2 linked regions of the Homo sapiens genome follow. The protein of the gene in region 2 purifies or fractionates together with the protein of the main gene of each other region. This does not show direct contact. Each region holds a gene or a part of one and is shown on either strand. Other genes may lie near its edges.

Region 1 (2,582 bases), on a different chromosome or scaffold from region 2:
TGGCCCCGACAGATTAAATGCGTGTTGGGGATTGGTTTCCTGTCATAGCTGCTGCTGCTGCCATGCGCAGAGCTGCTGTAACAGCTCTTCCTGTTCTGCTCCCCTGAGAACAGTGTGGTGGGGAGAGGCAGGGCTGAGGTGGTCTACGAATGTGGCAGGTAGGGAAGGGGAGATGTCTGTCTCTTGAGAAGAGAGAGGCATGTGTGCCGGCATCCTTGATGGGTTCAAAGAGAAAGGTTGGAGATGATAGTGGGTGAGAAGCAGGCTGGTGAGACTGGGCTGAGGTTGGAGAAGGGGCAGCCGGGGGCACTGCTGAGGGTTTGCCGTGCACGCCTCGGACGGAGCACGGTGGGGTGGCGGGGAGCAGATAGTGCTGCCTCCCTGCGGGCAGACAGGAGAGGAACCTCAACTCAGTCCATTTCATAGCCCTGATAGGGGAAGTGGGAGTTGACAGGATGGTTTAAAATAAGACGTGAAGGTTTCAGTTACCTGCTCTAGACTTTGCCTGAGAACTTGTAAATTAATCAGTGAGACCTAATTTGTGACATGTCAGTAGCATCATCTTTTGACACACAGGAGGTCATGGTCATTTCATTCCTACTCTTCAGGAGACACTGCTGAACAGAGGAATGATTCTGTTCCTTGTGTGCTTACTTCCTTAACATTTATACATTGTTTTAAGAAAAAACTTTTAAAAATATTTCTTATAGTCTCCTAACATTTGTCTCTAGCCTTTGCCTTTGTACAATCACAGATATCCTATGGAGATTTAAGGATGAAAGCCCTGAGTTGTTCTTGGGTTCTTGGATCTGGACTACTTGTTATCTTATGCTTCTCACTTCTGGCTAAAACTTGCACCTCTTCTTCTCTTAGCTAAGCCCCAAAATGAAGATTTCCTTCAGAAGTCTTGTTAGCAGAATTATTTATCAGTCACAGAGAGAAAAATCTGCTATTTTTCTAAGTAAGAGTCTCGAGAAGCAGAGTTTTTGTCTTGTCATTGAGAGGAGTCAGCAGTCTTGTTCTGTAAAGGACCAGAGATGGTAAATACTGTCCCACTCAGCTCTGCTGGCGCAGTACAGCAGCAGCAGCCCCAGCACAGCTGTGTTCCTGCGGAGTCCCCTTTACAAAGCCGCTGACCCCTGATGTGAAACTTTGTAGAGCAGCAGAGTGGCTGCGTGAAACGGGAGGCTGGCAGGTCCTCAGATAGGTTCTGCAGTGTTACCTGTCACTTGGAGGCAGCCAACACTTCTGGACATTGCATCCTTATTCACACATGTGGCAGCTGAACGAGGTGCTGTTGTGGGTGTCTCAGCTCTGAGGGTCTTTGTGAGCTCCCACTGTTGTGGGTGTCTCAGCTCTGAGGGTCTTTGTGAGCTCCCACTGTTGTGGGTGTCTCAGCTCTGAGGGTCTTTGTGAGTTCCCACCAACTTTTAATTATTCATGCCCTTGACCATGTGGTTGCTTGGAGACCTGGGGTCTTCTGCAGACTGAAGAAGACACATTTCTAGATTATTTGTCCTTTTTATCCTCTCAAAAATTTAAACACTGTACCTCTTCAGTGGTCAGAAGAAAGTTGGAAACTTTTCCTACATATTAGGCGTTAGTATGAGGACATTTGTTTGAATTATAGAAATTTGCCCTGAGCTGAACTGGGTTGTGTTAACACATTGGTAGAGCTATGATTCCTTCCCAGTTCTAAGAGATACGATCTGTAAGTCCCTATGTCACCACATTGCTTGAGATGATCATTCAGTTACTTGTCAGGATTTCTCCTCTTCAGAGAGATTTTTTTTTATAGCACAGATTCCTTTGCCCCTTTTATCTCCTTATCTGGATATGATAAGTGGTTATGAGGGTCTCACTAACTATTTTGTGTTTACCTTTTATATGTGTAAAACTTTGCAGTAGCATTTAAAGTGTAATTTATTTTTCTATCAAGTGCACTATTCATTTAGTGTGTTCCAGTTTTATATGACTTGTATTAGAAACACTGCACTGAGTTGTTTGTACACTGAAATGAGAACTCTAGATGTAACTCTATTCAAATAAACCTTCGTGAGACATTCATGTTTTTGTGCACTGTTTCTGTTTCTTGGAACTGTGATTCCTACATGCTGACCTCAACAGAGTTAGACCAGATCCACTGTTGGTACAAACCTGAGGAAGTGAGCAGAAGCAGCCGCACTGTTTTTAGGTTGATTTCCATGTTTTTGTGGTGTAAATTTGGGAGTAGGGGCATTTTCAAAGGTTGAAAACCTCATTGGTCATCCCCAGCATATCCTGGAAGGCACGGTGGTCATTCCAAGGACAGCATGGTGCAGTATCACCACAGCTTTGGACATCGGATCTGGGCTCTACTGCTTAATACCTCAGGTTTTTTGTCTGAAATGGCACATGAAGTGTGTGTCACAGCGTGTGGTAGAGTATGCAGGTGTTGACTTCTCCTTCTCTTGGCGCCCACCAGTCCCCAGCCTTCTCTGGGTTTGCACTGCACCATCCAGCGAGGAACAGTGCCACCTGGGTTGGTTTCAGGACTTCTGCTGGGCAGAGTCATACTGCACCATATGGGTGTTGGCAAAGCT
Region 2 (7,202 bases):
GAAATTTTGTTTATTTTATTTAGCACAATATCCACAGCACCTATAACAGTGCCTGGCACATAAGATAGTACTTAACAAACATTTAAAAGACAAATCATGGAGAGGTTGTACATTAGAAATGTAATGTAAAAAAAAATCACTGTAAAAAATGACACCACAGGACAATGCATAGTTGCATGGGACAGCTGTTACCATGGCCTGATATAACAGTGCCAGTTGCTTTGATTAAAGTGACTTCTTGGCAGGGTGCCATGACTCATGCCTGTAATCCCAGCACTTTGGGAGGCTGAAGCGGGAGGATTGCTTGAGCCCAGGAGCTTGGCGGCTGCAGTGAGCTATAATCACACCACTGTACTCCAGGCTGGGCCACAGAGCAAGACTTCAAAAAAAAAAAAAAAAAAAAAAGTCCCAGAAAATCTGTCTGCCCAATTGAGATGAGTTTGGCGATTTATTTACAAGAGTTAATGTTCTCTGAATAGCATCATCATGTTTGGTTAAGCCATTTGGGATTACGGTGGAAAAAAAATTAGCCAGTTTGGGAGCTTCATTTTTTTTCTAGTGCTGATTAAAATTGACATCAACAGACCTCTGGTGGGAGAGGTACTTCGCCCTCTGGTGGTGAGAGACACTCAGCTTTTTTTTTTTTTTTTTGAGACAGAGTCTTGCTCTGTGGCCCAGGCTGGAGTGCAGTGGCGCGATCTCGGCTCACTGCAAACTCCGCCTCCCGGGTTCAAGCAATTCTCCTGCCTCAGCCTCCAGGGCAGCTGGGACTACAGGCGCGCTTCACCCCGCCCAGCTAATTTTTGTGTTTTTGGTAGAGACGGGGTTTCACCATATTGACCAGGCTGGTCTCGAACTCCTGACCTCGTGATCTGCCCGCCTCGGCCTCCAAAAGTGCTGGGATTACAGGCCTGAGCCACCGCGCCTAGCCTCAGCTAGTTTCTACGGAAAAGGCTGGCAGAGCAGAGGTGAAGTGGAAAAGAGTGTCTTTCCACAGAGGTTTCTGGAAACATGTCCCCTTACTTCATGGTCACATGGTATCTGTAAGGACTGAATTTGAGGTTGTCATTTTTGACCCAGTGAATACCCAGCTTTGGTGAATGCCTGGGCCAGGCTAGACTGACAAAGATAGGAACTGAGGAATGGAAAGTGACATTTGCAGTTGGGTCAAAGCTGAGGTGGGAAGATTTGTCCCTAGCATGATGAGTGCCAAGGGAAACCTGGAGGGCCATGTGAACTGTGAAATTAGTCAGGATCCTGTCTCCTCACCGCGACAAGGGTGAGAATATCCATCACCATATGCCTCAGGAAGAGCTCTGGGTGGAATCCCTGGGCTGTGGATTCCCTGGTAAGGCTGGCTGCTGCCCGGACAGCTCACCAATGCCCTGTTTGTATCCCTGGAAATGCCTTTTCTTTTTATGTCTTTTTAAAGTTAATTTCACATATTAGAAGACTTTTTTTTCTTGAATCTAGAAATGATACATAGCTGGTGCAAAAAGTTATGAAAAGTATTGTTATTGAACCAAAGTGAGGGCTGCTTACCTGGTGCAGCAAAGCCACTGACATTGGGATTACAGCAAGAGAAAGTGAGGCATTTATTATTGCACTTGCTGCAGGGTGCCAAGCGAGGAGAATCAAACAGCTTATGCTTAAGACCTGAACTCCCTTATGGCTTACAGGGGTTTTATTTTATTTTTTTGAGACAGAGTCTTGCTCTGTCGCCCAGGCTGGAGTGCAGTGGTGCAATCTCAGCTCACTGCAACCTCTGCCTCCTGGGTTCAAGCGATTCTCCTGCCTCAGCTTCCCGAGTAGCTGGGATTACAGGCACGTGCCACCATGCCTGGCTAATTTTTGTATCTTTAGTAGAGACGGGGTTTTGCCGTTTTGGTCAGGCTGGTCTCGAACTCCTGACCTCAGGTGATCCACCTGCCTCGGCCACCCAAAGTGCTGGGATTATAGGTGTGAGCCACCGCGCCCAGCCGGCTTACAGGTTTTTAATGGCAGGAGGGCAGAGGCCACAGGCGAAGTCATAAATCAATACATAGGGGCTGTATATTGGTTCCACCTAAAAAGACAGGACATCTCCAACCAGGGGCCCACAAGTGGATTCAAAGATTTTCTGACTTGTAATTGGTTAAGGAGGTAAAGCTTTGTCTAAAAATTTGGGATCTGCAGAAAAGAATGTTAGCTCTGACTTATGGTCGTGTCCTCCTCCAGGCCCCCTAGGAAGAAATTTATAACAAAAAATAGAAGTCAAAGTTTAGTTCTCAGCTCTCCCTTATCTGAGTTTGCCTATCAGCAGATCCATTTGGTGGGGGTTCGAGTTTCTAAGAAACAACACTCAGGGACAAATTTTAAGATGTTATATTCAGTTTCTATAGGGAACAAAATATCTCCTGACTGTAACTTCTTTGGCTATTTTTTTTTTTTTTTCTGAGATGGAGTCTCATCCTGTCATCAAACTGGAGTGCAGTGGCGTGATCTCGGCTCACTGTGACCTCTGTCTCCAGGGTTCAAGTGATTCTCCTGCCTCAGCCTCCCAAGTAGCTGGGACTACAGGTGCATGCCACCACGCCCAGCTAATTTTTGCATTTTTAGTAGAGATGGGGTTTCACCATGTTGGCCAGGCTGGTCTCGAACTCCTGACCTCATGATCTGACTACCTCGGCCTCCCAAAGTGCTGGGATTACAGGTGTGAGCCACTGGGATTACAGGTGTGAGCCACTGCACCCGGCTGAGTTTATTTTTGTATAATGTGAGAGATGAGGATCCAGTTTCATTCTTCTGCATGTGGCTTGCCAGTTATCACCAGCTGTTGAATAGGGTGTCCTTTCCCCACTTTATGTTTTTGTTTGCTTTATCGAAGATCAGTTGGCTATAAGTATTTGGTTTTATACTGTGTTCTCTATTCTGTTCCATTGGTCTATGTGCCTATTTTTATACCAGTACCATGCTGTTTGGGTGACTATGGCCTTATTGTATAGATTGAAGTCAGGTAATGTGATGCCTCCAGATTTATTCTTTTTGCTTAGTCTTGCTTTGGACATGCAGGCTCTTTTTTGGTTCCATATGATTTTTAGGATTCTTTTTTCTAGTTCTATGAAGATGGATGGTGAGTCTACTCCTTTTAGATGGGGTGTGAGGATGGTAACCATAGTGCCAGTTCACCTGGGAGAGTCACTTTTATGCCTACCGTCCCGGTGTAATTATTTATTGTGTCTTTTCATTCTTTAAAGTGTTCTGGTTTGAGCAGTAAGTTACAGTCATCTTAGTTATGAGTCACAATCTTCACCATTCCCTGTTACATCACACTTAGCTCTCCTCTTTCATTTTTATTACAGGCCCCCTGCTAGGAAGGGAAAAAGTGTGTGTGTGTTGGGTGGGGGGAGTCAGTGCCATCCTGCCACAGAAGTTAGCTGAAAAAATGAGTATTAGAGACAACATGCTATCTGGTGGATAGAAATTAGGACAGGGTTTTCATCTGACAGAGAATATGATGTCACAATTTACTAATCCCTTTCCCTTCCATTATTTAATTTCACAACAACCTACCCAGTTACACAACTTATCCAGTTTGAGACTGCGTTTCTTTGTGTATGGATCTGCTGTCTTCCCCTGTAACCTGCATTTCGTGATAAAGGATCCCAGGCCGTTCTGCTCACCACTGTATCCCAGACACCCTCCCTTTCCCCTAGACATGGTTTGGTGTCGGGCGCAGAGAAAGCCCCAGGAACTACGATTGATCAGGCTCCCAGAATCTATAGATGGAGTGACCTGACGAGGACACAGGCGCAGTGGCAGAGCGCGATGACTTGGTCGATGTCCGCGGTGAGTCACGTGTAGAGAGAAGCAGGCAGGAAGCGGACTCGAGGGCCTGACTCCTGACCTGAAGCCCAGGATCATTTCTTGGCCAGCTGCCTGCATCCTGCCCAAATCGGCGAGAGAAATGGGAGAATGTGGACCTTGGGAGATTTCGCCGAAATGCTGGGCCCGGGGGCCAGAGAAACCGGCAGTGCAGGAAAGGCCACATCTCTTTTCCCACCTACCCCGCTGCCGCGCAGGACTACAATTCCCAGTAGCCTCCACGCCGCACACGGTCCCTGCCACGCGGCTTGCGCCTCCGCCGACGGCCCACTGGGGGCGCTGCGGCGACCCCTCCGCCGCCCCGTAGAAATCTCCGCGGCCCCGAGGCCGCTTGCTTCCTGTTTGTCCGACGAGGAGACATGGCGGCGGCGCCGGTAGCGGCTGGGTCTGGAGCCGGCCGAGGGAGACGGTCGGCAGCCACAGTGGCGGCTTGGGGCGGATGGGGCGGCCGGCCGCGGCCTGGTAACATTCTGCTGCAGCTGCGGCAGGGCCAGCTGACCGGCCGGGGCCTGGTCCGGGCGGTGCAGGTACGAGGCTGGACCAGGAGGGGCGGGGCGGGGCGGACCAGGCGGGAGCTGGCGGGGGGCCGGGGAAGAGGCCTTTCCAGGCCGCCGCTGGACGGGCCAAAGCCCTTTTGGCTGGCCGGAAGGCCTCCCTGTGAGCTGCCCGGACGCTCTCAGCTGCAGCGGGGCCGTGGGAAGCAGCTGGCTTGATGTCCCTTGTCAGGGGCCGAGCGGGGCTGGGCTGCTGTGGACACTGATGGCGTGTACGAACCCTGGGCCCAGTTTCTGGATCCTCCCTTCTTTGCGCCACGTCTACACGTCTGGGGGACCCTGTCGTGTTTGTTTTAGCCTCTGTGGGCCTCGAGTTTATCCCGTGTATTGGGCGTGGGGGAGGGGGTCATCATTGCAGCCCCCAAATGGTTCCCGAGCATTTCATAAATGTCATTTTCTCAGGCCTTTCCTTGACACTCTTTCCTTCCCCTTTCTAAAGTAGGTCCCCATTGTTATTCTGTCACAGCCGCGAATTCGTTTCGTTTACATTACTTTCTTAGTCTATAATTTCGTATTTCTTTGTTGTCTGCCTTTTTCTCGCCCGTCTCCCACATTAGGCTGAGTTCCAGCGGGTGCAGAGACTATATCTGGTTTGCTAGTGTAGAGCGTCACGGTTAAGAGGGACTCTGGAGTCAGGCCTGGGTTCAAAGCCCTGCTCCTCTCTCTTGCTTGGGCAGGTGACCTTTCTGTGCCTCAGTTTCCTCACTTGTAAGATGAAGATGAGAATTAGTAACCTACCTTTTAAGATTGTTGTGGAGATCAAAGGGGGCAATTGTGTAAAGCATTAGTGCATTTCTGGTGCATACTAAGGGCTGAAGGTAGTTAATATTAAGCATCTGACTTATAACAGGTGCCCAACATATGATTATTGTTATTTTTGAGTGAGCGAAGGACACTGCTTTAGGGTAAACCAGGTTGAATAGGACCTAGTCCACTACTTCTTCCACCCTCCCCCACCCCGAACCTTGCTAACACCTGTAAAACATTAGCTTTATTTAAAGACAGCTTTTTCATAAAAAGTTTGAAGGATACTCAAGAAACTGATAAAGTGGTTGGTGGGAGTGAGGTGGGAATTGGGCTAAAGGGGGAGAAAATGGGAGTGAGACTTTTCACAGTGTAACTTTATTTAAATTTAATTTGAATATCACTTCCTCAAATGACGAAAAGGATAGAATAAAATAAAGGCTAGGGGGTCTGTGTGTATGGAGGACTGTGGACGAAAGGAGCAGTTGTGAGTGAGAAATGTTTTCCTGGCCATCACACAACCATAGATGAGCAGCCTTTTTCCCCCTTGTGTTCTTAAGACCTGACTTAAGACCCTGTAATCCCAGCACTTTGGGAGGCCGAGGCAGGCAGATCGCTTGAATCCAGGAATTCGAGACCAGCCCAGGCAACACGGCAAAATCCTGTGTCTCCAAAAATTTAGCCGGGCATGGTGGTGGTGTGTGCCTGTGGGGAGGCTGAGGTGGGAGGATTACCTGAGCCTGGGAGGCGGAGATTGACAGAGTGAGACCCTGTCTCAAAAAAAAAAAAAAATCCTAGAAATACTTGCTCTTTCCTTCTTAAGCTAAGATACCTTACCGAGCTGGGTGTGTAGAGACAGGCAGAAAGAGGACTAACTTTTAGTGAGCACATAACCTTTAGAAAAAGTACGGTACAAGGCATATGTTATCTTTAATCCTCAAGCTTTTGAGTTATGCTTCAAGACTCATTTCTTAATATGGATGAGGAAACTGAGGCTCAGAGAGGTTAGATGATATGTTCCTAAACACCCATCCTGATAATCAGTGTTCTGAGAATAATAGGGAGCCACAGAAGTTCTTTAGCATGATAAATGAGGCAATTTAGGCAACTTAATTTGTTTCCAGTGCTGAATGACTTAGAATGGGAGGAGCCTAGAAAAGCCCACCAGAGGCTGGGCACAGTGGCTCATTCCTGTAATCCCAGTGCTTTGGGAGGTCGAGGCGGGTGGATCATCTGAGGTCAGGAGTTTGAGACCAGCCTGGCCAACATGGCGAAGCCCCGTCTCTACTAAAAATACAAAAATTAGCCGGGCGTGGTGGTAAGCACCTGTAATCCCAGCTACTCTGGAGGCTGAGGCAGGAGAATTGCTTGAACCTGGGAGGTGGAGGTTGTGAGCTGAGATCACGCCACTGCACTCCAGCCTGGGTGACATAGTGAGACTTCATCTCAAAAAAAAAAAAAAAAAGCTCACCAGATACAAGGCTGCTGGAATATTCTGGAGCCACAAAAGCAAGGCAGGTTATTGTGGTAACTGATGGTTGTATATAGGTGTGGGAGCTATTTCAGAAGTTGAAGTAGAGACCCCCTGCCTGGAGCTATAGTGAGGATAAAATGGGGACCTTCATCTTTCAAATATTTCTTTTCTTAGTTTTTTTTTTTTTTAATTTATTCCATGCTGTGCCCTTCCGCTCCTCTCTCCCATCCTGCAGAATAAGTTATTTGCTTACCCTTTTTTTTTTTTGAGACAGAATCTTGCTCTGTCACCCAGGCTGGAGTGCAGTGGCAAGCTCAACTTCCTGGGCTCAAGTGATCCTCCCACCTTAGCCTCCCTAGTAGCTGGGACTACAGGCGTGTGCCACCACACCCCATTAATTTTTGTATCTTTGGTAGAGACAGGGTTTTGCTCTGTTGCCCAGATTACCCATATTTTTATACTGTTATGGCATGTGGTATAGTAGGAAAAGACCAGATTTAAACATTTTTTATTTTTTATTTTTTAGACGGAGTCTCGCTCTGTTGCCCAGACTGGAGTGCAGTGGC

The links.
Region 1: the proteins of TRPC4AP (region 2) and EPB41L5 purify together in Homo sapiens (affinity purification with mass spectrometry; 2 studies listed by BioGRID and IntAct, with this or other methods). This does not show direct contact.

Annotation. Positions count from the first base shown.
Region 1 is NC_000002.12:120,177,053-120,179,634, forward strand, and holds the end of EPB41L5 (band 4.1-like protein 5), read left to right. Parts: 3' UTR 1-2,067; downstream 2,068-2,582. UniProt on the Homo sapiens protein: Plays a role in the formation and organization of tight junctions during the establishment of polarity in epithelial cells.
Region 2 is NC_000020.11:35,089,803-35,097,004, reverse strand, and holds the start of TRPC4AP (short transient receptor potential channel 4-associated protein), read left to right. Parts: upstream 1-4,197; 5' UTR 4,198-4,223; coding exon 4,224-4,391; intron 4,392-7,202. UniProt on the Homo sapiens protein: Substrate-recognition component of a DCX (DDB1-CUL4-X-box) E3 ubiquitin-protein ligase complex required for cell cycle control.